5 separate regions of the Homo sapiens genome follow, and regions 2, 3, 4 and 5 are each reported to be linked to region 1. Evidence: microRNA targets listed by miRTarBase, many of them from high-throughput screens and not tested one by one. Region 1 holds a microRNA gene; each other region holds the end of a gene's coding sequence.
Evidence for each region. The annotated mature microRNA hsa-miR-212-5p reads ACCUUGGCUCUAGACUGCUUACU and lies in region 1 at 3,069-3,091, shown strand. An mRNA with a match to its seed (bases 2 to 7 or 8) in the 3' UTR can be bound and repressed. Matches are read on the target gene's strand: a 7mer-m8 pairs with bases 2 to 8, a 7mer-A1 pairs with bases 2 to 7 and ends in A, and an 8mer does both.

Region 2: miRTarBase lists SP140L as a target of hsa-miR-212-5p. The part of its 3' UTR that is shown has no 7-base or 8-base seed match.
Region 3: miRTarBase lists ARHGEF39 as a target of hsa-miR-212-5p. Seed matches in the 3' UTR shown: 7mer-m8 at 3,442-3,448 and 7mer-m8 at 2,408-2,414.
Region 4: the mRNA of SSRP1 is a reported target of hsa-miR-212-5p. Seed matches in the 3' UTR shown: 7mer-A1 at 1,542-1,548.
Region 5: the mRNA of C15orf40 is a reported target of hsa-miR-212-5p. Seed matches in the 3' UTR shown: 7mer-m8 at 3,628-3,634 and 7mer-m8 at 4,846-4,852.

The regions. Positions count from the first base shown.
Region 1 is chr17:2,047,390-2,053,418 of GRCh38, reverse strand. MIR212 (microRNA 212) reads left to right here and starts at 3,039; the gene lies at 3,039-3,148. MIR132 (microRNA 132) reads left to right here and starts at 3,411; the gene lies at 3,411-3,511. LOC124903896 (a long non-coding RNA gene) reads left to right here and starts at 3,470. Exons shown (of 2, transcript XR_007065576.1): 1 at 3,470-4,258; 2 at 4,661-4,712. RefSeq lists an enhancer at 1,315-2,210 and silencers at 2,756-2,905, 2,916-3,715.
Region 2 is chr2:230,402,607-230,408,570 of GRCh38, forward strand. SP140L (SP140 nuclear body protein like) reads left to right here. Exons shown (of 19, transcript NM_138402.6): 19 at 192-1,126. The coding sequence ends at 290. Among named protein-coding and RNA genes, the nearest start is that of SP100, 11 kb to the right of the region's middle.
Region 3 is chr9:35,657,686-35,663,580 of GRCh38, forward strand. ARHGEF39 (Rho guanine nucleotide exchange factor 39) reads right to left here. Exons shown (of 9, transcript NM_032818.3): 5 at 5,637-5,707; 6 at 5,261-5,389; 7 at 4,827-5,056; 8 at 4,494-4,582; 9 at 1,658-4,317. The coding sequence ends at 4,302. CCDC107 (coiled-coil domain containing 107) reads left to right here and starts at 607. Exons shown (of 5, transcript NM_174923.3): 1 at 607-800; 2 at 891-1,042; 3 at 2,716-2,776; 4 at 2,872-2,962; 5 at 3,061-3,826. The coding sequence starts at 695. The coding sequence ends at 3,502. It also overlaps RMRP. RefSeq lists an enhancer at 1-387 and silencers at 470-729, 4,067-4,361.
Region 4 is chr11:57,321,800-57,327,768 of GRCh38, reverse strand. It overlaps SSRP1 (structure specific recognition protein 1), which reads left to right. Exons shown (of 17, transcript NM_003146.3): 14 at 1-57; 15 at 255-343; 16 at 880-1,066; 17 at 1,291-1,781. The coding sequence ends at 1,362. TNKS1BP1 (tankyrase 1 binding protein 1) reads left to right here and starts at 2,817. Exons shown (of 12, transcript NM_033396.3): 1 at 2,817-2,929; 2 at 5,819-5,969. The coding sequence starts at 5,884. RefSeq lists enhancers at 1,651-2,524, 2,554-2,603 and a silencer at 2,734-3,013.
Region 5 is chr15:83,000,980-83,007,008 of GRCh38, reverse strand. C15orf40 (chromosome 15 open reading frame 40) reads left to right here. Exons shown (of 4, transcript NM_144597.3): 4 at 1,317-6,029. The coding sequence ends at 1,412. Among named protein-coding and RNA genes, the nearest start is that of C15orf40, 7.6 kb to the left of the region's middle.

The DNA.
Region 1 (6,029 bases):
CTCCTAGAGCTGGGCTTTGACGGATGAATAGGAGTTCTTCTACCGAGCAGGAAGGCATTTGTGAATAACAGAATCCCTGGAACAAAGGCTAGCGGCAAGAAAACTGGAGCTCTAGTAGGCCAAATCCAGACTATGCAGGGCCTCTCTGACCCCATCTCTTTTATCTTTTCTCTTTTTGATAGAGTCAGATCCCCCACCCCCGACTTCCAAAGAGCCCCTCCGCCCCATGTATCTTGTGCAGTGGAGTCTGTGCATTGCTAACCTGCCCCAGGGGTCTGCTGTGCCCACAGTCTTTATTCTTCAGCGTTCCCCCACATCCGCTCCCCAAGTTAACTTACTGCCCCTAACCCCATCCTCAAGCCCTCATTGCTTCTGTAAGGGAGGGTCTCACAGCCCTGCCCCAGCCCAGGCCCCTAACCCCATCCTCAAGCCCTCATTGCTTCTGTAAGGGAGGGTCTCACAGCCCTGCCCCAGCCCAGGCCCCTAACCCCATCCTCAAGCCCTCATTGCTTCTGTAAGGGAGGGTCTCACAGCCCTGCCCCAGCCCAGGCCCCTAACCCCATCCTCAAGCCCTCATTGCTTCTGTAAGGGAGGGTCTCACAGCCCTGCCCCAGCCCAGGCCCCTAACCCCCTCCTCAAGCCCTCATTGCTTCTGTAAGGGAGGGTCTCACAGCCCTGCCCCAGCCCAGGCCCCTAACCCCCTCCTCAAGCCCTCATTGCTTCTGTAAGGGAGGGTCTCACAGCCCTGCCCCAGCCCAGGCCCCTAACCCCCTCCTCAAGCCCTCATTGCTTCTGTAAGGGAGGGTCTCACAGCCCTGCCCCAGCCCAGGCCCCTAACCCCATCCTCAAGCCCTCATTGCTTCTGTAAGGGAGGGTCTCACAGCCCTGCCCCAGCCCAGGCCCCTAACCCCCTCCTCAAGCCCTCATTGCTTCTGTAAGGGAGGGTCTCACAGCCCTGCCCCAGCCCAGGCCCCTAACCCCCTCCTCAAGCCCTCATTGCTTCTGTAAGGGAGGGTCTCACAGCCCTGCCCCAGCCCAGGCAGGGTGAGGACCGCCTTGCCCTCCTGTGCACTTCACTCTTCGACCTTTCTCTCCCTGCCCCGCTCTTCCGGCCATGCCTTGCACAGCCCTCCCCATCCTGGTCCAGCTCCTCGTCTGAACACACTCCTCTCATTTAGACCCTTCCTCCATCTCGATGGAGCCAGGCTGGGCCAGGACCATGCATTTCCCCGCTCCCAACCAGGGGAACTGCCCCACAAGTCATGGGCTCTCCCTGCCAATTCTGGTCTCCGGGAACATTAACTTCTCCAGGAAACCGTCCTCCTCATCCCCTGGGGGCCCCTCTTGGCCAAGCTGCTGGTCTCCTTCACTCTCTATTACCCTAACGTGAGCTCTGGGAGCGTCCATCGTGCCACAAATGGTCCGAAGGTGGGTCCTGGATGCCAGGCTCTGGAGCGTGGCACTGACAGCCTTTCCTCTCTCCCTTGCTGAGGCTGCCCATTCCTCTCACCCCTACCTCTGGCGCGTTCCCCCAGCTCCCTCATAGAGGATCCCGTTGCTCATCATTTCTGGGGAGGTTGGCCCACCTTCCCCAACTTCTCTGCCGTCCCTCGGGTCTCCAGCTCCTGGGTGGTACCTGAATCCCCGCTGGGCCTTCCCTCCCAGGCCCAGGTTCCTCCGCTAAAGACTCCTGGGCTACTTTGGGCTCCCCTACTCTTCTTCTCCCGGCCCCCGACGCCACAGCCCTCGCTGCGCCCCAGGCCCCCACGGGAGTCCAGCTTCCTCTCCTGCCCACCCTGCAGGACGAGAGGGTGGCGACACCGCAGTGGCCTTGCGGGGTGTGACGGCAGAAACGTCAGGTCCAGGAACTGAGGAGGGGGAAGGGGCTGCCACGTGAAGACCCCCAGGAGCCGCGGGGCTCCGGAAGGAGAGCGTGAATAAGCTCGAAGGGCCCGCCGCGCCCCTCCGCGCCGCCTCCCCGGCCCCAGGCCCGCGGTTCCGGAAAGTTAACCCCTTGTCGGCTGGGCAGGGGCGCGGCTCCCCCTACCCCGCCGCCGCTTCCGCGCCCCCTCCTCCCCTCCCGGTCGCCTCGGTCCCCACCCCCCGCCTCGCCACTATAAATAGCCCCTTTTCCCATTTCCTAAATTCCCCGCTGACGTCGGCAGCGCGTCAGTGTGTAGGAGCCGCGGCCGCATGAATGAGCCGCCGCACGAGTACTACGCGCGCCTATAAAAGCCGCCGCGCCGGCCAGGCTGCGGGAGGCGACCGGGCAGTGGCGACGCGGCCCGCCAGGTAAGCGGGACGGACCAGCCGCGGAGGGACAGATGTGCGGACACGGACGGGAGGACGAGGAGGGGACGGGCAGGCGGCGGGTGGGGCGGCCCCTCCGGGGTGGGGATGGGGGCGGACGGGGGGCACCGGGGTCCCCTCGCGGCTGCGGAGCCGGGGCCAGAGACGACACGAGCCCGCGCAGCACCTGCCGGCGCCCGATGGACACGCAGCTACTTCGGAGGAGCATCGAGTGGAGGACCGACCTCGGAGACCCCCCCCCGGCTTTCTTGGGGCTCCTGCGCCATTCTCCCAGGAAAGTGAGGCGAAGGTGCTGGCGCCCCAGGAGACGCGCCCCCTCCTCTCCCTCCCTGCGGCGCGGTGACTCAGCCTCGCTGCCCGGGCCGGCTGAGCGGGGGTGCAGGCGAGAGACGGACGCCCACCCCCGCTTCCCCGGCCCTCCTGGGACCCCCGCCCCGCATGGCGTCGGGCGCCCCTTCCCGGCAGGTCCCGTCCAGCGGGTCCCGCGGCGCCCACGGCTTCCCGCCTCTGCGAGCGGAGCTGTCCTCTCAGGACCGGGGGGGCGGGGCCTCCCAGGTCCCGCCCCGCCCCCACGCCCCCGCCGGAAGTGCCCCCTCTGGGACATCTTTGACGTCACGGCCCTCTGACGTCAGGGGCCGCGTGCCTGGTCGCGAGCGCCGGGCGGGGCAGGGCGGGAGACGCAGGGGAGGCGGAGCAGCAGAGCCCCCAGCCGGGGCAGCCGGGGCGACCGGGGCACCCCGCCCGGACAGCGCGCCGGCACCTTGGCTCTAGACTGCTTACTGCCCGGGCCGCCCTCAGTAACAGTCTCCAGTCACGGCCACCGACGCCTGGCCCCGCCCCAGGACCGCGGCCCCGGCCGCCGCCGCCGCGCCCGGGGACCCCCAGTCCCCGTCCCTCAGGGCCCCGCCCCCGGCCCGCTGCCTGCGCCGCCGCTGTCCGCGGTGCTGATCAACGCAGGCGCCGCCATCGGGCCGCCCCGTCCGGGTCCCTAGGGGCTGCGAGGGGCGGTGGCCCACGCGCGCTCCTCAGCCCCCGCCGCCCCGCCCGCCCCCCCGCGGCCCTGACGTCAGCCCGCCCCGCGCCGGCGCCGTCCGCGCGCCCCGCCCCCGCGTCTCCAGGGCAACCGTGGCTTTCGATTGTTACTGTGGGAACTGGAGGTAACAGTCTACAGCCATGGTCGCCCCGCAGCACGCCCACGCGCCGCGCCACGCCGCGCCCCGAGCCGCGGGCTGGGGACGCGGAGCAGAAGGAGGCGGGGGCGGCGAGTCAAGATCCCACGTGCCCGCGCGGGTGGCAGGAGGTGCTGCGCAGGGAGGCGGCCTCCCGGGGCCGGCGGCTGAGTCCACCGAGGCTCGAGCGCGCGCGTCCTGCGGAGTGCGTCTGGCGGCCAGCCTGAGGCCGTCCTGTCCTCCCGGCCAAGGTATCCCAGCCAGGGCTCGGCGAGAGAAGGGGTCGGGCTGGGACTCGGGTTCTTTCGATTTCGGTGAGAGGGAAGCCACTGGGACCAGGAGGCTTGGAAGGAGGTTTGTCTCCTGGGGCCTGAAGACAGTAGAGGGAGGAAAGTTTTCTGAGATACTCCACAGCCCCGTTCTTCCAGGAACCCCTAGCTGAAGTGGGCATTGGGCGAAGAGTAAACTCTTGAATCTTTCCCTCTGAGCTAGGAGGATAAGAAGGGTCCCCAACCCTCTGGAAGCCAATGAGCTTGTAAAGTTAACCTGGTCCGCGAAGCGTCTGAACAGATCAGCCTGCTCACCTCAGCCTATCTCTAGGTGCTGGATTCCAATCTGAGACAGTTTCTCAAATTAGCCCTAAAGAGGAGTGAATACCACAGGGGCTGAAGTCCTCTGGTGCGGATGAAGTGTGAACAAGGATCTCTAAAAATATTATTGTATATGTCGCCTGCCTCTGCCAACATCACCCACTACAGGGGATGTCTATTGAATATCAGGTGTGAGACTTCCCCAGAGATAGTGTTGGGAATGGTTAATGCAACCCAGCCCACGACACGTTAATCCAATTTTTCTTAACGTCTCACGCCCCACCCCCTCCTTCACTCCCCACCCGGCTCCTTTGTGAAGTACTTCTAAGACACTCGTGCCGGTTTCCCAGTTAATCAACACCCACATGCTAGCCATCCCACCTCCCCAGGGCCCCGAGGTCTTGCAGATTAAAACGCACTTGCTTCTGGGTTCCAGGGGATGTCAGTGGGTGGACTGCAGTGGACTGCTGGGTGTAGTGCTCTGGGAAGCCAGAGGTCCAACCTGGCATTATCAGCAACTGGTGGTTAAGGGGCCATATTCTGTTTCTGAGCTTTCTGTAAAACGGGATAATAATCTCTTCTCCTCGGCAGGTGCACTGTGAGGATTAAATAGGATCATGTAAGTAAAAATCCAAAAACAGCAGAATGTTATTTTGATCTTAAGTATTCTGTTAGGCTACTACATGTTTGTGAAGGGGTGGTGTTGGGAGGGGACCCCAGCTCTGTGCACTTAGGCAGAATGAACGGGATGTGGGGGGTACACCTTGAGCTTTAGGCTATATATATTTATTGTCTAATATATATATAATCTATATTATATATATGTTATACATACATATACTTTTATTTTTTTTCTTCTGAGACAGTCTCGCTCTGTCGCCCAGGCTGGAGTGCAGTGGCACTATCTCGGCTCACTGCAACCTCCGCCTCCCGGGTTCACTCTGGGCCTGGGGCTGTTGAGAGGTTCCTTGCTAAGGGGGTTCTCTCTCCTAAGAGCTCTAGGAATCCAAGGTGGAATCAGAGGTGGAAAACAGAAATGGTTGGGATATTCTGAGAAGAGGTCAGAATGTGGTCAGAGGGGAAAGAACCAGAGGATTGACCGTACGTCAGGGTTGTTTAGCATCTTAGAAATCATTTAGGGCAGGGCACAGTGGCTCACGCCTGTAATCCCAGCACTTTGGGAGGCATAGGTGGGAGGATCTCTTGAGCCCAGGAGTTCGAGACCAGCCTGGGCAATACAATGCGACTCCCATCTCTACAAAAAAGAAAGAAAGGAAAGAAGAAAGGAAAGAAAAGAAAGAAAATTAGTTGTGCACACCTGTAGTCCCAGCTACTTGGGAAGTTGAGGTGGGAGGATTGCTTGAGGCTGGGAGGTTGAGGCTGCAGTGAGCTGTGATTGCACCACTGTACTCCAGCCTGGATGACAGAGTGAGACCCTGTCTCAAAAAAAAAAAATCATTATTTAGGGCTGGGAGACATGGCTCATGCCTGTAATCACACCATTTTGCGGGGCGGGGCAGAGGCTGGAGGACTGCTTGAGCCCAGAAATTCGAGACCAGCCTGGGCAACATAGTGAGACCCCATGTCTTAAAAAAAAAAAAGCCAGTGTGATAGGTGGCACCTGTAGTCTCAGCTAAGCTACTCAGGAGGCTGAAGCGGGAGGGTCACTTGAGCCGAAGAGGTCGAGGCTGCAGTGAGCCATGATCCTGCACCTGGTGACAGAGGTAGACCCTGTCTTAATAATAATCCAGCCTGGCCAATATGGTCAGACTCCGTCTCTACTAATAACACAAAAAATTAGCCAGCCATGGTGGTGCTTGCCAGTAATTCCAGCTGCTTGGGAGGCTGAGGCACTAGAATCACTTGAACCCAGGAGACGGAGGTGCAGTGAGCCGTGATCGTGCCACTGAACTCCAGCCTGGGTGGCTGAGTGACACTCCGTCTCAAATAATAATAATAA
Region 2 (5,964 bases), not on the chromosome of region 1:
TGATTTAATTATTCCACATAGCAGTCATAAATCACAACACTGCTTTGTACTCCAAAATACATACCATTATAAATTGTCAACTTACAGTTTTTATTTTTTAAAGACAAGAGTCCTGATCATTCTCAGTTGAAAGGTATCTAATGACACTAATGATAAGGAACATCGTTTTTGTCTTTATTACTTTTTTCCAGTATAAGGATTTTGGCCAAATGGGACTTAGACTGGAGGCTGAATTTGAGAAGGATTTCAAGGAAGTGTTTGCTATTCAGGAAACAAATGGGAACAGTTGACTGGTTTAGTGGATGCTGAAGGCCTTCAGGAAATATGCTACTGGTTGCCACTGACTTCAAACTGAGAGCACTTGGGAAATAGCACATGCAGGGAGAGGCTTTTCTCTGAGCCTCCCTCATCTGCCCAAAAACAAATCCTCAAAAGAAATTTGATCATCATGAATCCCATCCCCAAGAATCTCATCAACCAGGGAAGAGGAACTGAGATCACAGGGAAGGAGATTGGAGGTGATACCAGCACAGACAGACTCTCACCTCTTCTCCTGAGGTCTGCTCCAGACAACATTTATTACTCACAAGACCTTTTTCCTCCGTTTTTTTTTTGAGATGGAGTCTCACACAGTCACCCGGGATTGGAATGCAATGGCGCGATCTCAGCTCACTGCAACCTCTGCCTCCCGGATTCAAGTGATTCTCCTGTCTCAGCCTCCCAAGTAGCTGGGATTACAGTGCCTGCCACCATGCCCAGCTAATTTTTTGCATTTTTAGTAGAGACGGGGTTTCACTATGTTGGCCAGGCTGGTCTCGAACTCCTGACCTCATGAGCCGCCCGCCTTGGCCTCCCAAAGTGCTGGGACGTGACAGGAGTGAGCCACCACACCTGGCCACTCGCAAGACCTTTTATCTGAAAACCAGCCAAGCTTTATTCACGACACACTTCTTCCCTTCACTCTCCCACTTCTGTGGTCAACTCCCTGCAGAACTCCCAAACTGCCGTTCTTTTCGATAGCTCACGATGGTGTATGAGTGTCAATCATCTGACCCTTCTTGGAGTCTCATATTTCGTGGAACTCCTGTGCAAACATATATTATTAAATTTTTTTTCCTCCTGTCAATCTACTTATGTCAATTTAATTCATTCGTAGCTCAGCCAAAGAACCTAGCAGGGTAGAGGGAAGCCATTTTTCCCTCCCCTGCAAAGCGGTTGGCATCCTGGCACCATCTCCTCTTCTGACCAGGTCTTTTCATCCCCAGCTGCTGAGTGGTGGCTGCTGATGCCAGCAGTCCCCAGAGTATTACCCTTCGTTAAATGGAATCAGCTTCACCTGGAAGTGACGCCCCGTGGCCTGAGGCCGGCCCCTTTGCCTCAAAGCAGGACCAAGGGTGTGGTGTGTGGCTACTCTGTGCTCCCAGGTATCAGGCTGGAGCTAGTCTCCAGCTGTGGCCACATCGTGGCTTAGCTTTTGCCCACATGATGAGCTTCCCCCACTCCCTTCTGAGCAAACCCTCACCATCAATCTCTTGCTTAATGGACTTCATCCCAGAATGTGCTTCTGGGGAATGCAACCTAAAGTAATGGCCCCAGGAAGCGAGCTCTGAGGACAGGATTCTGGAGTTGGATCACTGTCTAGCCCAGTGATGCTGGGTGGAATATGGATAGTCCCAGAAGTGCTATCACTGAGCAGTTGCCCAAATTTTCACCTGTAGTAAATTGGATGAGCTGCAGGTCAAGCTATTTTAGTACAGCTATGTACTAAAATAGCTGGTACAATTGTCTGGCATTTAAGAAGTGAGGAAAAGTAACTATAAGAAATATGGGTTTTGGTGGGTATTACTAAGTGCCATTAATGTCTTGAAAAGAGTAAATGACAGGCTTAGATCTATTCATTACCAACCTAAAGAGAAGAGACCCTCATACCTGGAGCTGGAAGGCAGACAGCAAGGAAGGTCTGGTACAGACCTGATTTTATGAATCGCAGAACTTCAGAGAACACTGAATTCTAAGCTCAGGATGGTCTCTTATGCCAAAGTCAAGGCCTTCAAACTCAGCATGGGGCTATCTAGGTAGATGTACATGAGAACTTTGAACTCCAGATGCCCCCTGAACCTACTGGGTTTGCAGAAAAGTCTTTCTGCCCCTTGTTGGAAGAGAGAGCTACCACCCCCACCCAACTCCCGATTTTTCTAGAATGAAGACTGTATAGAGACCGCTCAGGACAATGAAAGTGAACAATCATGGGGAGGGCAGCAAATGAAGAGAGCATTTATCCTCCGAAGGAGCTGTAGGACTGGCCAGCGTGCATCAGCAGGAGCAAGGAGATTGTGTCTGGGAGTGGATCCTGGTCCAGGAAGGGTGAAATGTGAAACCAGATAAGTGACGATTATTGGCAAAGGGGCAAGCTTCTCTACCACAGAGTTTAACTAGCCTGGCTTGGGCCAAAGGTGATGATTCTGATATACTCCTGGGTGGCTCCTAGAGACTAAGTATAAGCCATGGTACACATTAAATCAAGTGGAAGCAGAGATACCAGAACTACTGTGGCAGAGTCTGGAAAAGTGGGTCCCAAGGATAGAGAAGTTGGTGTGCTAGAATGACTCTGCACTCTACAACTGGAGAATCCATCCATCAGGTGACTGAGTTCCTCCAAAGGGGACACTACTAATGTGTCTCAGACACTAACTAAGGTGAGAAGGAATGCACTGTTGAGGGGGCAGCACATCCTTAAGAAGCTCAATGGTGGCTGTCCCCTGCAGGCTGGAATAATGCTAGGGATGTTTTATAGAACTGGATCCCCCAGTAGTGAGTAAAATGATAGAGTTCCAGAATAACAGGGGCCAAGTGGCAGCATTTAACTGTGAGGACAAGATAAAGTAATTTCCGTAAGGGGCATCAACGTTAGAGTGACAACTGGGAGGCCTGACCTGTAGGTGTCCATGAAGATGGCTCTTAGGACATGCTGTTCCTCTAGGCAAGACACATATTGCTTTAGACATATAATCAAAAGAGATTGAAAATAGATGAGCAGAAGGCTGAGGTCAGCTATCTAAAGGTAAAGTCTTAGACCCCTTGCCCAGCTTCCAAACCTCAGCCAGTTCTCAGTGGAATCCAGAACTCACTGATGGAAATGAGGGCAGTTTCTCATAAGGAAGAACCTTGTAAGTGTGCGCATCACTGATTCCCTCAAGTTTTCACGGGAGGGCTCTATGGCCAAATTTTTTGAGTTACTCACATGCCGGGGAAAGGAAAATACACAGATCTTTCAAGGGATGTTGAGTACAATATCACAGTTGATGCTAATCCCTGAGGACTCAAAGCCCTTTCGTAGCCCCTGTTAGAGTAGAGTACGTGGAGGTGAGGTAATGTCCATCTCACAATGGGCCCTCTGGATCCACAGGCCACCCAGCAATCATTTCCCCATTTCCTGAATGTATAATCAGGATATACATTCATACATACATCATAAAATATAGCAATTGGCTGACCTGGTTCCTTAACCTCTGGTTTCCTAACCTATGAAATAACAATGACTGTTTTAGGGAAGGCCAAGCAGAAGCCTCTGAAACTGAAGTTTCATGGTGAAAACAAGTAAGTTAAAAGCAATATCACATTCTTGGGGAATGATAGAGATTAGTGCCACCTACAAAGACATGGAGGAGGCAGGGGTTGTTACCCCAGTTACACCTCCATTTTAATTCAGCAGTCTGCCCTCTGGTATCTCCTGGTGGTTCATGCTGCTAAATGGCTCCTAAAACTTAACCAAGGAGTAGCCCCTATTACAGTTGCTGTGTCAAACGTGGTATCTTTATTATAACGGGTTAGCACAGCCTTAGCAAGTGATATGCAACTATTAATACGGAAATGCCACTTTTAAAGGATCCGGCAGGATGTAGGTTGAGAGGAAATTCACATTCTCAAGGATTGGACAAGAGTATATCTTTACAGTCTTGCTCCAGGGCAAGGTGAATCCTGCTCTGTGTTACAATATAGGCTTTCTGGACACTCTGCAATACATTACATTGGTCAACTGTATTGATGACAGTATGTTCATGAGCCTGATAAGCGAGAAATGTTGACTATTCTGAATGACTTAGTAAGTCATAAACACTGCAGATGGTGGGAGAAAAACGTTACAAAGATACAGAGATATGCCATATAGGTAAGCTTTCAGGGGTTCAATGGTCTGGAACGTGTCAGAGCATCCCCTCCAAAGCTCCAAGCTGTTGCACTTCATACCTCCTGCCACTAAGAAACCCAGAGCTTGGTGGTCCTCTCCAAGTGAGGAGAATCACCGTGGTTGACATTCTGATGAAAGTGATTCTAGGCTTTGTAATGTGGTTGTGTGTTTGGGAGGCAGGGAGTGGGGAGGCAGTGGGTATACCATCTTCATAAATAAAAATGTGCTAATCAATGTTTTTCACTTAACAATATAAGATGGACATTGTCACATCAGTAAATACAGCTCTACATCATCTGTGCCTTACCTTTCATTTATCCTCAAAACTGGATGACAGTTGGCTCTTTGATTATTTTTGGTCTGGTAAGCATAGTAATTTGTACTGAGGGGCAGCACAGACTAGCATTCAGTAGCACAGCCTCTGTAAGTGGAAGCCCAGTTCCTGCACTTCTCCACTTGCTGACGGTGTGTCCTTGGGCAACCTACTCATCCTTCCCCTGTACTGTTTCATCTGTAAAAAGGAGATACTAGTAGTAAATAGCTCACTGGATTATTGTGAGGATTAAAGAGTTAATATTTATTATGCACTTAGAAAGTGCTGGCCCTCCATGCAATACATATGTAATAAACAAGCAAACTTAAAAGATTAACATAAACACCTTTGTATCAATTCAGGCTCTTTGCTGTCAAGAAAAACCCAATATATACCCAAAAGAATAGAAATCATTCTATGATAAAGATACATGCATGTGTGTATTCATTGCAGCACTATTCACAATAGCAAAAACATTCAATCAACCCAAATGCACATCAGTGATAGACTGGATAAAGAAAATGTGGTACATATACACCATGGAATACTATACAGCCATAAAAAGAAACTAGATCATGTCCTTTGCAGGGGCATGGATGGAGCTCGAAGCCATTATCCTTAGCAAACTAATGCAGGAACAGAAAATCAAGTACCATATGTTCTCACTTGTAAGTGGGAGCTGAACAACGAGAACACATGGACATAGGGAGGGGAACAACACACTGGGGACTGTTGTTGGGGGCAGGGGAAGAGAGAGGATCAGGATAAATAGCTAATGCATGCAGGGCTTCATATCTTGGTGATGGGTTGATAGGTGGTGCAAACCACCATGGCACACATTTACCTGTGTAACAAACCTGCACGTCCTGCACATGTATCCCAGAGCTTAAAATTAAATTAAATTTAGAAAAAAAAAGAAAAGAATCCAATCACAAAAGACCACATAATTTATTATTCCATTTATATGAAATGTTTAGAATAGGTAAATCCATAGAGACAGAAAGTAGATTGATTGGTGGTTGCCTAATGCTGGGAGGTTGAGGGGAAATGGGTATGTGGTTTCTTTTTATGGTGACAAAAATGTTCTGAAATTGATTGTGGTGATGTTAAAAAGCCCTATGAACATACTACATAAATTTGAATTGTACAATTTAAATGGGTAAATCGTATGGTATGTTAATTGTATCTCAATAAAGCTGTTAAAAAAATAAAAAAGAGAGAGACCCAATTTATCTAGGGTAGACAAAAGTTACTTCGATGATGATATCACAGTGCCTCACAGAAAGGGCCGGAAGGCAGGGTTACAGAGTTGGCAAATGGCCCTGGAAAAGGGCAGGAATCAGAGCATTTCCAGGCAATCATGCAACAGGAATGACACAGCCATTCCCTAAGGATGTTAAGATTTTACTAAATGTTGTTGTTGATTTTTTTAACCTCTCACAATACTTCACTCAAAAGCTCAACT
Region 3 (5,895 bases), not on the chromosome of region 1:
GGTGAGGCATCGCGTGAGCCCGGGGAGGTCGAGGCTGCAGTGAGCCGTGGTCTCGGGAACAAAAAACAGCCGCGCTGAGAATGAGCCCCGTGTGGTTGGTGCGCGGACACGCACTGCCTGCGTAACTAGAGGGAGCTGACGGATGACGCCCCCGCGCCACGCCGCTCAGCGGGATACGCTTCTTGGCGGACTTTGGAGTGGGAAGCGGGGAATGTCTACGTGCGTATGCACGTGGCACTCTCTGCCCGAGGTCCGGGGACTTTCCCCTAGGCGGAAAGGGGAGGAACAGAGTCCTCAGTGTGTAGCCTAGGATACAGGCCTTCAGCACGAACCACGTCCTCAGCTTCACAGAGTAGTATTTTATAGCCCTAAAGAAATTGTGTTTTATGATTAGGGTGAGAAAGTTGGTGGCGTGAGATTAAAAAAACCGTTTTCGGGCATAACTTTCTAAGACTATAGGCTTTCAGAGGCATTGTGGCTAGCAGAATAGCTAATAGACACGAAATGAACAAATACAGGAAAGCTAGAATGACACTATCTTATGCAAATATGGTCTGGCCCCGCCCTACGGGGAGTGGGCGTGGCCTCCCCGGAGCCGGCCGGCCTGCTCGCGTGCGCGTGCGCGTTGGGGCGGCCGGCCAATGCCGGACCGCTTCGGCACCGCCCGCCCGATCCCTCCACCCGTGGGCCGGCAATGGCGGGCGCAGTTTCGCTCTTGGGTGTGGTGGGGCTGCTGCTTGTGTCTGCGCTGTCCGGGGTCCTAGGAGACCGCGCCAATCCCGACCTCCGGGCACACCCAGGTACCAGCTAGGGCTGCTGGAGGAGGGCTGGGACTGCGCACGGGTCCCAGGCCCCAGCTCGGCTGACTCGCCTGTATCCTCCCTCCGCAGGGAACGCAGCCCACCCCGGCTCTGGAGCCACGGAACCCCGGCGGCGACCACCGCTCAAGGATCAACGCGAGCGGACCCGGGCCGGGTCGCTGCCTCTGGGGGCGCTGTACACCGCGGCCGTCGCGGCTTTTGTGCTGTACAAGTGTTTGCAGGTACGGGGCGGCCGGGGGTAGGGGTGCCCCTGCAGGTGCGGGACCGCCGGGCGTGGGGATCCCCTGAGCCCGAATCTCCCATGGGGGTGCCAGGGTACCAAGAACAAGACACAGCTTCCCTGTCTGTAAAATAAAGACAGTAGTCCGTTGGCCTTCCAATATTATGAGGTTATTTTGAGGATCCAGGGAGGTAACGGATGTGAAGAGCGTGTGGTGAACTGTAAATAATGACTATCACATTTAGTTCTCCTACAATCCAGTGAGGAGTAGTCACTTGCTCGAGGTCACCCAGCGCTGGCAACTGCTGGAGCTGGGATTTGAACCCAGCTAGCAGTGTCCATGCTACAAGAGTGGGGCCAGCCTTGGCACAGGAGGTTGATTGCTGCAGCCAGTGTTTCTAGAGTTCCAGATATGAAGTGGTCTCATGTTCTCCTTGGGAGGAGGCCCTGAAATGTAAGTTGACAGTACATTTTGAAAAACAGTACCTTCCAGGGCTGTGTCTTTAGCCGTGACCCTATTACGTACTTGCATTATAAAATAGAACCGATGGAACCAGTTTAGATATATGAAACTAGAAGAGATAGCTAATAATGACCCCAGGTAGATGTGACAGGCTAGGATGAATGACTGAATTTAATGATGAACTTTGAGAAGGATAGACTAGTAAATTCTGTTCTTGGACCTGAGTACAGTCTGGGAGAAACATAATGTAGCAGGAGGTCTTATGAAAGAGAGTTAGGCATTCCAGTTGACTGAGTTCACTGTGGGATGTGACAAGCCACTTCCCAAATCAGTGCTGGGAACATGGCACTGTGCTTCACCTGCCAATCAGAATGCCCCTGGAGAATTGTATTCTCCTCAGGGCATTGCTTTAAGAGCACTACGTGTTCAGGAAACAACCAGAGAAAACCACCGTCAATGAGCACTGACTGTAAAGACTGACGTTAATAAACCAGAAAAAACTCAGGAAAGTGGGTGAGGGTGTGACCATTGCCTTCAAATTCCTGAGGGGCTGTCACCTTGAGGAGACATTATTTTGGAAGGCTCCAGTAAGCACTATGGAAAGAAGATACATAAAGGACAAATTTTGGCTTTGTGCATGAACTGTCTAACAACCAAAGTTTTTGTTTTTTTCGAGATGGAGTCTCGCTCTGTCACCCAGGCTGGAGTGCAGCGGCGCAATCTCGGCTCACTGCAACCTCTGGCTCCCAGGTTCAAGCGATTCTCCTGCCTCAGCCTCTCAAGTAACTGGGATTACAGGCACCTGCCACCACGCCCGGCTAATTTTTGTATTTTTAATAGAGACAGGGTTTCACCGTGTTGGCCAGGCTGGTCTCAAACTCCTGACCTCAGGTGATCCACCCACCTTGGCTTCCCGAAGTGCTGGGATTACAGGTGTGAGCCACAGCACTCAGCCACCAGAGCTTTTTTCAAACCGGAGGGAGTTGCTCATTCCTGGAGGTGTTTCAGCAAACTGACCATGTGTGGGACATAGGACGTCGCTTCATATGCTGGGTGAGGAGCTAGATAGACTAGGATTGTGATTCTCTGAGGTAAAAACCCAATCACTGTCTCCATCTCAAATTGCACTCTCTCTTGGCTGGCTCTGGAGACTGAGGTGATGGAGCAGAACCTTGTTGCTTCAGTACTGCCCTTTCCTTCTTCCACAACAGGGGAAAGATGAAACTGCGGTTCTCCACGAGGAGGCAAGCAAGCAGCAGCCACTGCAGTCAGGTGGGTTTAGCAGAAGTCTGTGCTGGGTCGGGGGAGTTTAGGGGACAGCAGAAGATACATAACCACTTCTGCCCCCTTTTTTCCCTTATCCCCAGAGCAACAGCTGGCCCAGTTGACACAACAGCTGGCCCAGACAGAGCAGCACCTGAACAACCTGATGGCCCAGCTGGACCCCCTTTTTGAGCGGTGAGGAGAGCAATGATTCTGTGAATTTTTGGGGAATTTGTGGCAGGAGGGAGGAATGGGGACATAGGTTGGGAGCCACTGAGTGGACATTTCTTCAGTGTGACTACTCTGGCTGGAGCCCAGCAGGAGCTTCTGAACATGAAGCTATGGACCATCCACGAGCTGCTGCAAGATAGCAAGCCGGACAAGGATATGGAGGCTTCAGAACCAGGTGAAGGCTCGGGAGGCGAGTCTGCTGGAGGTGGAGACAAAGTCTCTGAAACTGGAACATTCCTGATCTCTCCCCACACAGAGGCCAGCAGACCTCTTCCTGAGGACTTCTGTTTAAAGGAGGACGAGGAGGAGATTGGTGACAGTCAGGCCTGGGAGGAGCCCACAAACTGGAGCACAGAGACATGGAACCTAGCTACTTCCTGGGAGGTGGGGCGGGGACTACGGAGAAGGTGCAGCCAGGCTGTGGCAAAGGGCCCCAGTCACAGCCTTGGCTGGGAAGGAGGGACGACAGCTGAAGGTCGACTAAAACAAAGTCTGTTTTCATGATGGAGTGCTCCTGTGTGTTTTTTCGATCCTAGTTGGTTGTACACACCCATACTAGGTGCCTAAGGACAACTGGGCCTTCTTGAAGAGCTGTCCTTATTAGGACAAAAAGAGGCTGCCTTCCAGTGTGACAGCAGAGAAGATAGAGGGAGCTCCAGCTCTTTTCCTCGTATTCCTGAGGCCACCAGCATGCCCGCGTTCAGGGCCCAAAAATCCCTTTTCTCATAGCAAAACTGAGACAGAAGGGTCTTTCCCAAAAAAAAGAAAAAAAACTTTACTCAAATCCAGTGGAAAAATAAATGATAGAAACTATACACAACATAAAAATAGCCACATTTACAAAGCTGCAGCCTTGATAAATGACGGGCCATGGACACAGCACAGAGCTTATCAGTCCCAAATCCCCTCATCTGTGTTAGGGGCTGGTTCATTTGAGGTTTAGTTGGGTTGGACTTGGTTTCCTGATTCTTCTTTTTTAATAAAATTTCTTAATTATTTTTTCTTAAATAGAGACAGGGTCTCACTCACTGTGTTGCCCAGGCTGGTCTTGAACTCCTGGGCTGGAATGATCCTGCCACCTCTGCTTCCCAAAGTGCTGGGATTACAGGCATGAGCCACTGTGCCTGGCCGTGATTTTTAAGAGTTGGTCAGATGATCTGGAGTAGCTTGGTCCAGGCAAACAGAAAGTGACCTTTGTCAAATCATGAAGGGTTCTGTTTTGTTCAGTACTGAAGATTCCTTTGTACTCTTGGCTGTGACCTATCCCTGAGGTATCCTGAGTTCTGGAATCTATAAGATTCCTCTAGTTTTTCTGGCTGCTGTGGAGAGAAGACAGTCAGTTCAGGCACTGGTATGAGTGCTTTATTCAGACAAAATCATCTGGGGGTTGGTGGCTGGGGTGTGCCAGACCAATGTAGGGCATGAGACAGGAACTGCATATTTCCTGCTTGTGGGCCTCATCACAGCACCCTTCCTGGGGGAAGACACAACTTACCTGATAGCCCAAGTCAGACTGTGGTACCAGCGTGACAGCTCCTCCTGGTCTGTGGACATAAGCAGTAGCTTCTCATGAGGGAAGGACAGCTAGAGAGAGACCACCTCTTAGCGCATGGCTCAGAAAGGTCCAGGCTAAAGCTGAAGCCCTTGCTGTTTCCATGGAGCTAATTCAGGGATGAGACAATGACTAGGTATGAAGCCCGAGCCCCAGCTATCCTCTCTCAATGTAGATGGCTCTGTTCCTATGAAAAGGGACCCAGACCAGGGAGATAAACCAGCCCATAAGCATCTGAGACATATTTTGGGTCTAGGGTTCCCACCTATTACTTACACTGAGCAACCCACCACAAGGGCCTCCTGAGTGGCCAAAGACCCTGCTGAGATGACACTGGGCCATGGGGTAGAGGGCCTTGCAGGCAAAGGTGCCACTCCGCAGCAGGTGCAGTGGAGGCCGAGGCTTGGCCATGAGGAGCACATCAGTGAAGAGGAAGAACATGCGGGGCCGAGGCTCCCCATGGGGAGGCACCACTAACAGCCAGCCCTGGCGTAGGAACCAGCGCCCTGGGGGATGGGAGCGCTGTTATTCTGGTGCAGCTTCAAGATACATGGGAATAAGAGGAAAGGGAGGCTGAGAAAATAGGGGTTATGTGCTGGGTCAGTACAGGAAGAAGGGTGAGTAAGAAAAGAGCAGCTGGTCGGCATTTGGAGTTAGATAAAAATAAAAGATGGGGCAGTTGAGGATTGAAGGGGAAGTAGGCAAGCTACCTGAGGTCAGCCCCTTTGCCTGGCGTCCACTGAGCAGAGCCTGGACACGCCGAAGGTGCTGGTCATTCTTCTGTTTCTGACCAATAGTATGGACTCTCTGGGCAGTCTCACTTATCAGTCGGGCAGCCCCTGGAATAACATCTCCCACCTTACTCCCCATACAACTTTGACTTTGGGTGCCATGGTTGTGAAAGAGGTTATTCTGGAAGGGACCAGGGTCAGGGTCTGACTTCTTGAAGAAAAGGCAGAGCAGTAGGGACACTGTATACATGTCAGTGGAAGATAGGGTCATACCAGACATTGTTGGAGGTCAGAATCAGAAAGGAATACAGGAGAGGAAGCCTCCAGCCTGCGTTGCCGAGGAGCAAGAACCTACGTGTGAGCTGTTGATGGTCAGGGCTGTTGGGACCTGTGTTTTCAGCCAAAGCTACGACGAGATTCTCATACCTGGAATTCAACAGTGGGAAGTCTGAGGGGAAGCAGAGCCAGGCAGAATTCCCCCTGCCTGATGTGCAGATCACCCTCTACCCATACTTCAATTGAAGGCCAGGAAAGATCTGCTTCTGGCTACTGTATCCCCTTCTTTCATGTAGGACTCAGAACCAGGCTCACACCACACAGCCCTCTTCCATCCC
Region 4 (5,969 bases), not on the chromosome of region 1:
GATCTTTCCAAGAAGGCAGGCGAGATCTGGAAGGGAATGTCCAAAGAGAAGAAAGAGGTGAGTAGCAGCAGAGGAGGGGTGATGCCTCTCATGGGCTGGCGAGAGGTGCTGTCTTGGGGTGGCGAGTCTCATGACTGATAGGGGAGCAGTATGAGCCATTGGTGGGACTTTCTGTATCGATTTTGCCTGCATCAGGGGAGAGGGGAGATGGGAGAGGTCTTATTCTTAACTGTTTTTTTCTGTGTGTGAGACAGGAGTGGGATCGCAAGGCTGAGGATGCCAGGAGGGACTATGAAAAAGCCATGAAAGAATATGAAGGGGGCCGAGGCGAGTCTTCTAAGAGGTGAGTGTCGAGAACATGGCCCAGTCACTGATTTTTGTGGCAGACTTTTTTTTTTTTAACAGGCCGAAGTTGAGCATTGGAAAGTTAAAGACAGCAGAGATGCTTCTGACTGCAGTAGGGTAGTGCTTCTCAAACCTGGGTAGGCCATTGCCCAAGTATGGGTGACACAATAGGGCATTCAAGTCACTGGGGAAATATGGCCTCTTTTCCTGGACCATTTTATTTGAAGGTATGGGGGAACGAAAAAAATACTATTATGGAGTGCAGTGCACAGTTTGCATGAACTCTAAAAGATAAAGCAAGAAATATCAAGTAGGTTTTGCACATTGGGCTGCTTTAGGCTGTGCCCTCTGATTCTTCTGGTGTACTCATGATACTCTCCCTTGGTGCCCTCCAGGCTGACGCAGCTATTTACGTTCAGAGTGAAATGGGCTGTGTGGCTGGGATTGGGAAAGGCCTTGTTAAAGCTGGGAGAGGTTTGGTCATGGTGACAGGGGACCTGAAGGCCCAGCTCCTCTTCCCTCTTGCCAATACAGGGACAAGTCAAAGAAGAAGAAGAAAGTAAAGGTAAAGATGGAAAAGAAATCCACGCCCTCTAGGGGCTCATCATCCAAGTCGTCCTCAAGGCAGCTAAGCGAGAGCTTCAAGAGCAAAGAGTTTGTGTCTAGTGATGAGAGCTCTTCGGGAGAGAACAAGAGCAAAAAGAAGAGGAGGAGGAGCGAGGTGCGGCAGGAATGTGGGGCCTGTGGGCTGGGCAGGGTGAGGGGCATGTGTGTCTGTGTGGGGTTGGTCTGTAAGAGTAATGAGTTGGAGTGGATGGTGGAATTCTGAGGTTCTGAAGGGGGGTGCTGTAGTTGGGGGCGGTAGGGAATTGCGGGCCCTTCACTGAAGAGTGGGTGGGGCACCCAGGACTCCAGCTTTTCCCTTAAGACACCTTTGGTTTTCAGGACTCTGAAGAAGAAGAACTAGCCAGTACTCCCCCCAGCTCAGAGGACTCAGCGTCAGGATCCGATGAGTAGAAACGGAGGAAGGTTCTCTTTGCGCTTGCCTTCTCACACCCCCCGACTCCCCACCCATATTTTGGTACCAGTTTCTCCTCATGAAATGCAGTCCCTGGATTCTGTGCCATCTGAACATGCTCTCCTGTTGGTGTGTATGTCACTAGGGCAGTGGGGAGACGTCTTAACTCTGCTGCTTCCCAAGGATGGCTGTTTATAATTTGGGGAGAGATAGGGTGGGAGGCAGGGCAATGCAGGATCCAAATCCTCATCTTACTTTCCCGACCTTAAGGATGTAGCTGCTGCTTGTCCTGTTCAAGTTGCTGGAGCAGGGGTCATGTGAGGCCAGGCCTGTAGCTCCTACCTGGGGCCTATTTCTACTTTCATTTTGTATTTCTGGTCTGTGAAAATGATTTAATAAAGGGAACTGACTTTGGAAACCATGTCCTCATGCTTTCTTTGTAGCCTTGGTGTGTTGCTCCCACTTTTATTGGTGGTGTTTACTGCTCTGGTCAGACTGGGCAGGGCCTTCCTGGCCAGCCGGGAAGCAAGTCTCGAGGTACATCCTGTTCTGTTCCCGGCTGGACGAGCATTGGTTTTCACCCGCCTCTGCCCGGATGGGCCACCTGAGAGTCTAGAAATGAGAGCTGATCTGATTAGGAAGTTTCTCCCAGTTACACTCCATTAGCCAACCAAGCTAGGGGGAGGCAGCTCTTGGCTGCATCCTTACCTATGAGTCAAGGGTCTTCCAAGGCTTTCGATAATGAAATCAGGATTGACTGTCCTTCCCGCAGCCGGGGGAGTGGAAACCTGAGCCTGGAGAGTCGGGGAGGATGAGCGTGTGCGTAGAGTGGTGGTGGTTGCAGCCTGGTGGTGGTGCAACAAAGTACGGAGTTATATGTGAAGCTTTTGTTCTTACGGGAAGAAGGGGGTATACAAACTTCAGTGTAGGGAGGAACCCATGTCTGAGAAGGGGCCTAAAAGGAGATAAAGGTCACTAATGAGGAATGCAGAGCTGCCAGACTTCTTCACGGTGGCTCTAAATCTGAATTGACACAGGAGGGTGGCCACGTTGCGCGCGTTCTCAGCACTCAGGTGGTTGTATCAGGAAGCCGCTTCAGTCAGCCGGCGGCTACCTTCTTGCCGGCGTAGCTCGATGATACTGTGCTCTGTGCAGGCGGCGGAGCCCGGGAGGGGCCGCCAAGGCAGTTTCTCTAGGCAGTCGTCTCGGTGGCCATTTTACCCGAGCGCTCCCGGCTGAATTGCGTCAGTTTCGCCCCGGTCTGAGACTGGGGCGGGCCCCTCATCTGCAAGCCTCATGAATAATTGAGTGCTGGGCCGCGCCTGTTTGCCGACGGTGGGACGAATTCTGCACGGGCTTCCCACTCCCGGGTTCCAACCGGCTCATGCATATTCATGAAGCGCCCTGGGGGCGTGGACCTGGGCGGAGTTGGGGCGGGGCCCCGCCGGGGCTCGCAGTGGCTTCGTCCCGCGGTGACGGCGGCGGCGGCGGCGGTAGCAGCGGCGGCGGCGGCGGGGACTGGCATCGGGGCCCCGAGCCGAGCGGAGCCGGACCCCGGGCGAGCGCGTGAGTGCGCGGGGGCGGTCGGGCGAAGGAGGGGGCGGGGTCCGGGATGGGGCGGGGGAGGGGCATGGAAGGAGTGGGTGCTTTCCAGCCGACACCTCGGGTTGAGGTGGTGGTGGTCGGGGGGTCACCAGGAAAGTTTGCAGGGGCCGAGGGCGCTGGGGACGCTGGAGGCCCGGGGGAAGGTGGCGCGTGTGCGCGGAGGCGGAGGGCGCATGGCTTGGAGCTCGTGCTGGCAGAGCCAGAAGAAAGGGGGGAGGGGGCGAGGGCTTGGGGCGGGGCCGGGGGCGGGCAGAGCCGCTGGAGGGACCCCTGCCTCCCCTTCCTCCGGGCCGCGCTAGCCCCCTCCCCCGGCTCCTTCGGCACGCCCCCAGCCACCCCAGTCCGCCCCCACCTGATCGACGTCTGCAGCCCACCGTCTGTTCGCCGGCTGCTTCACAGCCCGCTCACAGGTCCTCCGCTTCTGCCGCCACCGCAGCCCCCTCCTCCTCCTCCTCTTCGGCTGCCGCCGTCCCTTCTGTGTCCAGAGCTCCCCACTGGGCCCCTCCAGACAGCCCATTGCCCGGGGCTGTTCCATCTTCCCGTTGGCCCTCCCTCTTTCCAGCAGTTTACGTGCTGTCCCTGCCGACCTCTCTAGCCTCGGATCCGGCTGGAGATCCTGGGGTCCATAGGGGCGACCCCGCCTGCGCCGAGTCCCCTCCGGGGCTGGAGCTGCCCAGCCCTTCTGGAGGCCTTATCTGCCAGGGGTCAGCTCGTTTCTACCCTGCTACCCTCTACCCCCTGGTCTCTTGAGGGTGGGGAGTGCTCAGAACCGCTGCGAATCGCAGCTTCTGGCCACAGCCTTGGTGGCCTTGGTCACCTGGGGCCCCTGGCTGGGGTCTCTGAGTTGCTGTGGCCACCTCCGCACCTGGGGACTCTGAGCCCGCCTTCATTGCTGCAGCCCCTCATACCGCAGAGGGGCCCATCAGAACCCCAGGTGAAAGGATTTTTTTGGTTCTGAGCCAATTAATTTCCATCTCCAACCACCCACACTATGTTCCTAGTAATAATGTTCAAGGACAAGGAAACAATCTTGTGTTTTAATTTTATTTTTTCTATCATGTGCCCCTCCCCCCACCACACTTGGCCTGGCTCTGCACAGTTATTCACCCACCCACAGTGGGCAGTCTTCCGTGGTGGTTAACTGACCAATGGGTTGACAGTACTGGGTTTCTCTACTGTCTTCATACCCTCTCCCATCTTTGAAACACCTGGGGCAGGGTCAGCGTTAGGGGAGGGGTGTTGGATTTTGCAGAGGATGAGCACTGGGGGTCCCTTTTAAGGATTTGGTGCTGTCTTCCCAGACCAGCTGGAGTGGGTGACTTTAAGTGAGGCAATGCCCCTTGCAGGTTGGAGAAGTTTGGGTTGTCCTCAGGGCTCTGCATACCAGGTGAGGGAAACTTCCGCCTTGCATGAGAGGTGCAGGGCCCTATCCCCCAGGGTCTCCATGTTTTTGTGGGTGGGAGAGTGCTTCAGGAGTCAGGATGGGAACTGAGGAGGTGGTTGGAGTATCTGAAGAACAGGTGACAGGACTAGGGCCTGGGAGAGTGAAGGAATGGTCTGGGAATGCTGGTAGCCTGGGGTCAGGGAAGAGGAGGAGGTGGTTATCAGGGATGTTAGCTCATTGGTGACACTGAATGGAATCACAGTAATAATAGGCAACATTTGTTGAACACTTATTATGTGCTAGGCATTGTGCTAAGCCTATTTCATGTACTATTTCATGTAAGCCCCCTCAGGGTCTCAATAATCCCATTTTTCAGTTGGAGAAACTGAGGCTTGGAGAAGTCACAGGGCTAGAAAGTGGTAGACCCACCCAGCACTGAATCTTGGTATATCAGATCCTGAAGCTCATGTGACAGGCTTCTACCACCAGGCTGTGCCTCTTGGTTTAATTTCTTCTGTCCCCCTCAGAACTCCTTAAAGCCAACCCTAGGCTGGTGAGTGAAGCCCACATAACCCCTTTTCATACATAGGCTGTGGCTGCTCCACCCTGACTGTCGTGGAAGGTGGAGCCCCAGGGAATTTTCCCCCAAGTCACTCCACCCCCCGGATGTTCTCAAGCCCTGTCCCGTTCTCCCAGCCCAGGCCTGGGCCGGCTCCTCCTTCCTCTTGGCTAGGCCCTGGAAATCCAGTGGGAGGCCATTGCTATGGCAACAGGACTAGGCCCTGGCTTTACCTCATCAAATTCCAAGCTGAAGCCAAGCGATTGAGAAATTAAAGAAAAAAATATATTCCAGATGTTTACTTTTTATTCCTTATTTTTCCGTGTTTGGATGAGACAGTTCTGAGGGAGGGGAGAGAGTGGGGCAGGGATGTGGAAGGAGAACAGGGAGAGGGGGGAGAAGGAACCACTCCCAGCTGCGGGAGGGAGGGAGAGAGGGAAGGAGGGTGAGTGGGAAGGGGGAGGCAGGCAGTGGGGCGGAGCCCAGGTTGGGGAGGAGCGGGTTTTTCCCGTCTCCCGTGAGGTGATTCACAGACAGACTTCATACTTTGCAGCTCTCTAGCTCTGCTTTGAGTAGACACCTCCAGCGGGGCCGTCCTACCCAAGGGGCACTGTGGGGACTGTAAGTGGGGTGTCTTGGAGAGCTTGTCAGAGGAGGGAGCAGTGAGTGACTCCCTGAAGCGCTAGGACTTTGGGGTTAGGAGATAAGAGTTGGGGAGGATCTTTGAAGAGTTGAGGATATGGCTGTTGGGAACCTCCCTTGACCTCCTCCTACCCCCCCCCCCCCACTCCAAGTTCTCTCTTCCTGTCCCACACTCTGCCTCTGTTAGAAATAGGAGACTTCTCTCTGCTAAACCTACTGGCAACGCCCAACTCTTTTTTTCCTTCTCTTCTCTCTCTTTTCCTAGGTCTGCAGCCACCCCAGCTCATACCTCTCTGCCTCCCCGCTCTCAAGGAGGGTCTGCCGCATGTGATGAAAGTGTCTACTCTCAGGGAAAGCTCAGCCATGGCTTCCCCACTGCCCCGGGAGATGGAGGAGGAGCTGGTGCCTACTGGCTC
Region 5 (6,029 bases), not on the chromosome of region 1:
CAGGTTCCAGCTGGCATTCACAGTCATTGATTAACAGACTGCACCTAAAAATCCATTTGAATGCTCCCCACCTGTGGCAGGTCATTTCTGATTTTTGGCTAGTGCTCATGCGCTGACGTTTGCCTGAAAGATGTTCCTCATTCTTCTGCCTGTTCAAATTCCACTCATCTAAATAAACCCCTTCTCAAATTTTATCTTCTTTAAAGGCTGTGTTTGAAAACAAATCCTTTCTTTTTCTTTTGGGACGGTGTTTTCGCTCTTGTTGCCCAGGCTAGGGTGCGATGGCGCAATCTCGGCTCACTGCAACATCCGCCCCGCGCCCCGCCCCTCCCCGGTTCAAGTGATTCTCCTGCTTCAGCCTCCCGAGTAGCTGGGATTGGAGGCGCGCGCCAACACGTCTGGCTAATTTTTAGTAGAGACAGGGTTTTGCCACATTGGCCAGGCTGGTCTCGAACTCCTGACCTCAGGTGATCCACCCGCCTCAGCCTCCCAGAGTGCTAGGATTACAGGTGTGAGCCACCACACCTGGCCAACAAATCCTTTTTAAAGTTTTAAGTGGTTGTGAAATCGTGGCACTTGGATATGTGGCTACTTTTTGTTTGGAATTTTCAGAAATGTTTAACAACATAGAGAATAGCAATTTGTTTATATTTATAATTATTTTACTACAAAGTTTATATAAAATTGCAATATTTATTTTGGTATTTTAAAGATGATTTTCATTTTTAACTTAATTGCTTGAGACTAGAATATCATTTTTTAGATTTTTTTTTTTTTTGAGATGGAGTCTTGCTCTGTTGCCCAGGCTGGAGTGCAGTGGCGCGATCTCAGCTCACTGCAGCCTCTGCCTCCTGGGTTCCAGCGATTTTCCTGCCTCAGTCTCCTGAGTAGCTGGGATTACAGGCACATGCCACCATGCCCGGCTAATTTTTTGTATTTTTAGTACAGACGGGGTTTCACCATGTTGGTCAGGCTGGTCTTGAACTCCTGACCTCGTGATCTACCCACCTTGGCCTCCTAAAGTGCTGGGATTACAGGCGTGAGCCACCGCGCCTGGCCCATTTTTGAGATTTTAATGTCCAGCTTTTATTATAGAAATTGATGTATGAAGGTAAAAACCCTGGAGAGTTGTTAGTACTAACAAATGTTTAGTAACAAATGGTAGTAAGGAAGAATCTAAGAGATAGTCTTTGGTTAGACCAGAAGTAACCAAGAGAAAGCCATCAGGAGAGCCCATTATACAACGGAGGTCTGCTATCTCTAATAGCATTAGAATGTGCTAAACAGTAAAGTATGCTTTTTCTCTTTTGGTCCAGGGTGGTAAATCTCGTGAAAAGGTGGTGAAGCTTTTGGCTTCTACAACTCCAGAAGAGATCTTGGAGAAATTAAAAAAGGAAGCCAAAAAAACATAAAAGCAAGAAATGAGGCCGGGCGCAGTGGCTCATGCCTGTAATCCCAGCACTTTGGGAGGCCGTGGTGGGCGGATCACCTGAGGTCAGGAGTTCGAGACCAGCCTGACCAACATGGTGAAACCCCATCTCTACGAAAAATACAAAATTAGCCAGATGTGATGGCGCATGCCTGTAATCCCAGTTACTCAGGAGGCTGAGGCAGGAGAATCACTTGAACCTGGGGGGCGGAGGTTGCAGTAAGCCGAGATCGCGCCGTTGCACTCCAGCCTGGGCAACAAGAGTGAAACTCTCTCCCCCCGAAAAAAAAGAAATAAAAAATACATCCTTGAGAAACTTTTTTATTGCTAATGGTGAAGAGGCTGTTAAATAGAAAAATATACTACATGCACAGAAGAACATGGGGGACATATATATATGTATATATTCGAATAAGACTCCAAAAAGTAGAAATTTAAAAAGTGCTATACATTGCATCAGGTTCTAAAATCCCAAACCCCAAACAGCCTGGAACATGTTACTCTGATTTCATGGCGTTGTAAAATAACAGAGCTGGGAAGAATATTCAAGATGACCTGATTTAACACCTTTCATTCTGTTGGGGGGCCTTTGATTTCCTATATCCAGAAGTTGAGAGACTTACTCAAGATTGTACCATGCAAGCTGGCAACTAGAACCCAAATCCTTGGACTACTTGTTGAATGCAGTTTTTCTAGATTGTAAATTAAAAATCATATCTCCACAACGGTTCTGGAATTCTGGGGATTGCCTTCTAATCCAGTTTACAAGTGACAGAAAACCTGTTATGCTGCTTTGTAGTCTTACCTTAGATTTTTAAATGCTTATTTAAATGTAAAAAAAATTTTTTTTTTACATCTTTTAAAGACTATATTTACCATTTTGTTGAAAAAGTAAAGAAAAATCATGACTTGTAATTAAATGTGAATTATAATTTTTGAGAAGTCACTGAATTTTCATCTTCCTCTAATAACTTAAATAATCAGCAAATTCAGTAGTTTTTATGAATCTCCAAAGATCCTTAAAAGAAGAAAGAGGACTTGGAAGCTATTTTCAGTATTTGTAAAAGCTTGTCAGAAATTACATCTATATTAAAGTTTCAAAAGCTAATAATATATTTTTACATCTTCAGGTCAAGTTATAGTAATTTATTAAAGAAAATAAAATTAATTTCCTTTGCTGATCAGGAGAGCTGATCTGCAGTTGTGCGCTTTGTCCAGCAAGTACATGAGAAAGATGTATTGATGGACCAAATCATTAAAAACAAAATCCACAAGGAAGAACAATAATAAAAATTGCTGATGGTAGCTGGGCTTGGTGGCTCACGCCTGTAATCCCAGCGCTTTGGAAGGTTGAGGCAGGAGGAACACTTGAGCCCAGGAGTTTGAGACCAGCCTGGGCAACGAAGTGAGACCCTGTATCTGTCTCTGTCTCTTTCTTTATAGATAGATAGATATACATAGATAGATTTTATACATAGATATATATATTTATATGTAAGATTATATATAAGACCTCATATATAAGAAGTCCAGGCCGGGTGTGGTGGCTCATGCCTGTAATCCCAGCACTTTGGGAGGTCGAGGCGGGTGGATCACCTGAGGTTAGGAGTTTGAGACCAGCCCGGCCAACATAGTAAAACCCCATCTCTACTAAAAATATAAAAACTAGCCAGGCATGGTGGTGGGTGCCTGTAATCTCAGCTACTCGGGAGGCTGAGGCAGGAGAATTGCTTGAACCCAGGAGACGGAAGTTGCAGTGAGCCCACACGGTGCCACTGCACTCCAGCCTCGGCGACAAGAGTGAGACTCCGTCTCAAAAAGAAAGAAAAAATCCCAGACAGTGAAAGAGAAGCTACTCGTCTAGTACAACTCTTAACTTGTACCAAATAGGTATCAAGGGCAAGAAAAGGTGGCTTATGTGAGATCACAGTGCACATTAATGGCAGAGCTTGGTTTAAGCCCAGCTGCTTTGTCTTCTAAACTGTGCCATATACTGCCTGCAAATGTGCTTCTGTTTTACATGGTCTTAAGAGCTTTTCCCACTCTTTCTCAAGACCATTGCCATGTGTGCTGTAAAGCCGTTTTACTTGTGGATTTTACATGGATCACTGTTAGAATGTCATAAAATGATATCATAAAAGATCAACTTTCCTGGCCGGGCATGGTAGCTCACACCTGTAATCCCAGCACTTTGGGAGGCCAAGGCAGGTGGATCACCTGAGGTCGGGAATTCGAGACCAGCCTGACCAACATGGAGAAACCCCATCTCTACTAAAAATACAAAAAATTAGCTGGGCGTGGTGGCACATGCCTGTAATTGCAGCTACTCGGGAGGCTGAGGTAGGAGAATCGCTTGAACCCGGGAGTTGGAGGTTGCGGTGAGCTGAGATCGTGCCATTGCACTCTAGCCTGGGCAAAAGGAGCGAAACTCCATCTCAAAAAAAAAAAAAAAAAAAAAGGATCAACTTTTGGTCAGGCGTGTTGGCTTACGCCTGTAATTCCAGCGCTTTGGGAGGCCGAGGCAGGCAGATCACGAGGTCAGGAGTTCAAGATCACCCTGGCCAACATGGTGAAACCCCGTCTCTACTAAAAATACAAAAGTTACCTGGGCATAGTGGCAGATGCTTGTAATCCCAGCTACTCGGGAGGCTGAGGCAGGAGAATTGCTTGTGAACCGGGACCCTGGAGGCAGAGGTTGCAGTGAGCCAAGATCGCACAACTGCGAACTGCGCTCCAGCGTGGGCTGCAGAGGCAGACTCCGTCTCAAGAAAAAAAAAAATCAGCTTTCTTTCCTTCCCCTGAATCTTCTGCAGTGCCAGTTTCATCCTCAGGCCCACTTGTTTCATGTAGACAAAAGGCCAACCAGGTTTCATATTCACGTATCAACCCCTGCAGTAGGAGAAAAGGCCACTCCTAGGAGCTCTGGTATTTTCCAGAAGCTTTCAGTCAGCCTTCCCTTGTATCAGCCCAAATCAAGTCACATGAAATTTCTAAGCCAGCCCCTGTGATCAGGGAATGCCATTCTATAACACAAGTTCCCTAAAGCAGTAACTATAGAAGAAAGAATTACCCTAATTGTTTCAGGCCAATTAAGGCCCATCCTAGAGGTGGAAATGGGGTCAGCATACTCAGAAGCAAAGAAGTAGAGAGAGTTGGATACCTGAATAAAATTGGGAAAAGTTACAAAGAGAGGAATGGATGCTGGAGAGGAACCACCAGTTTCTACTACGATAACCTATTTACTTCATTTTAAACGGTGATATTTTAAACGTGGGAACATTTTGCCTAGTGAGTTTTTTTCTTTGAGAAACGTAGCAGTATCTTGTAACAAAGAAGATATGGGGACACTCTGTCATCAAAAACTACTTTGGGGCCGGGCATGGTGGCTCACACCTGTAATCCCAGCACTTTGGGAGGCCAAGGTGGGTGGATCACCTGAGGTCAGGAGTTCAAGACCAGCCTGGCCACCATGGTGAAACCCCACCTCTACTAAAAATTACAAAAATTAGCTGGGCGTGGTGGTACATGACTGTAATCTCAGCTACTTGGGAGGCTGAAGCAGGAGAATTGCTTGAACCCGGGAATCAGAAGCTGCAGTGAGCCGGGATCACACCACTGCACTCCAGCCTGGGTGACAGAGCAAGGCTCTGTCTCAATAACAACAACAAAAAAACAGAAACAAACAAAACAAAACAAACTACTGTTGGAGGTAGGAACTGGCCCAGGGGCTGTATTCCCAGAACACGATTCCCTTTTCCCCACTGCAAACAAGATAGTCTACAGCAGCCTCACAACTTAATTGTCTCACACAGGACTATTCCTACTGTTAAGAGATCACAGCTAAGGCTTGGGCACCTTGACCTGCTGTAGAAGCTCAGTTAATGTACTTTTCATCATCTGGGCCCTGGTATTCCCCTGTAAATACTGAAGTAGACCCAGTGACCTAGTGCCCAAGACACAAAATATTCAGCCTCCGTAACATTTGTCTAATGACATGGTTCTAGCTTTGCTCACTCCCATTAATTTCAAGTGAGTACTGGCTAGGCAGTCTATAGTGACTTGATTACACTGTCTTTCTTGTCCTGTGCTGTCCTGAGAATCCTGGATTTGAAGCAGCCTATGAATAAGGTTTGAAAAATATTTATCCAACTATGCCGACATATGATGTTCTAGCACTGCATCTGTCATCTATCACCCGCACCTTAATAAATGATAATTACTTGTGCAAACATGATGTATTAATCACTTATTAACTTGGTTGCTTACTTGACAGACACTGCTAGGTGGTTTGCCTATGCTGTACTTCGACAGATCCTGGGAAAGAACAGCCTGGCTCATTATGCCCTGGAGGCAGGAGCAGAGATTTCAGACTTCTGATTTCTGTGAGCCATTCCACACTTTCCTCTCGGTTAGGGGAGGGACAGCAATAACCAGAGGATGAAGGTGGAACCTTTGCAGTGCACACCTAGGCCAGTGCAGTGGCTTATGCCTGTAATCCCAGCACTTTGGGAGGCTGAGGCGGGTGGATCACTTGAAGTCAGGAGTTTAAGACCAGCCTGACCAATATGGCGAAACCCTGTTTCTACTACAAATACAAATA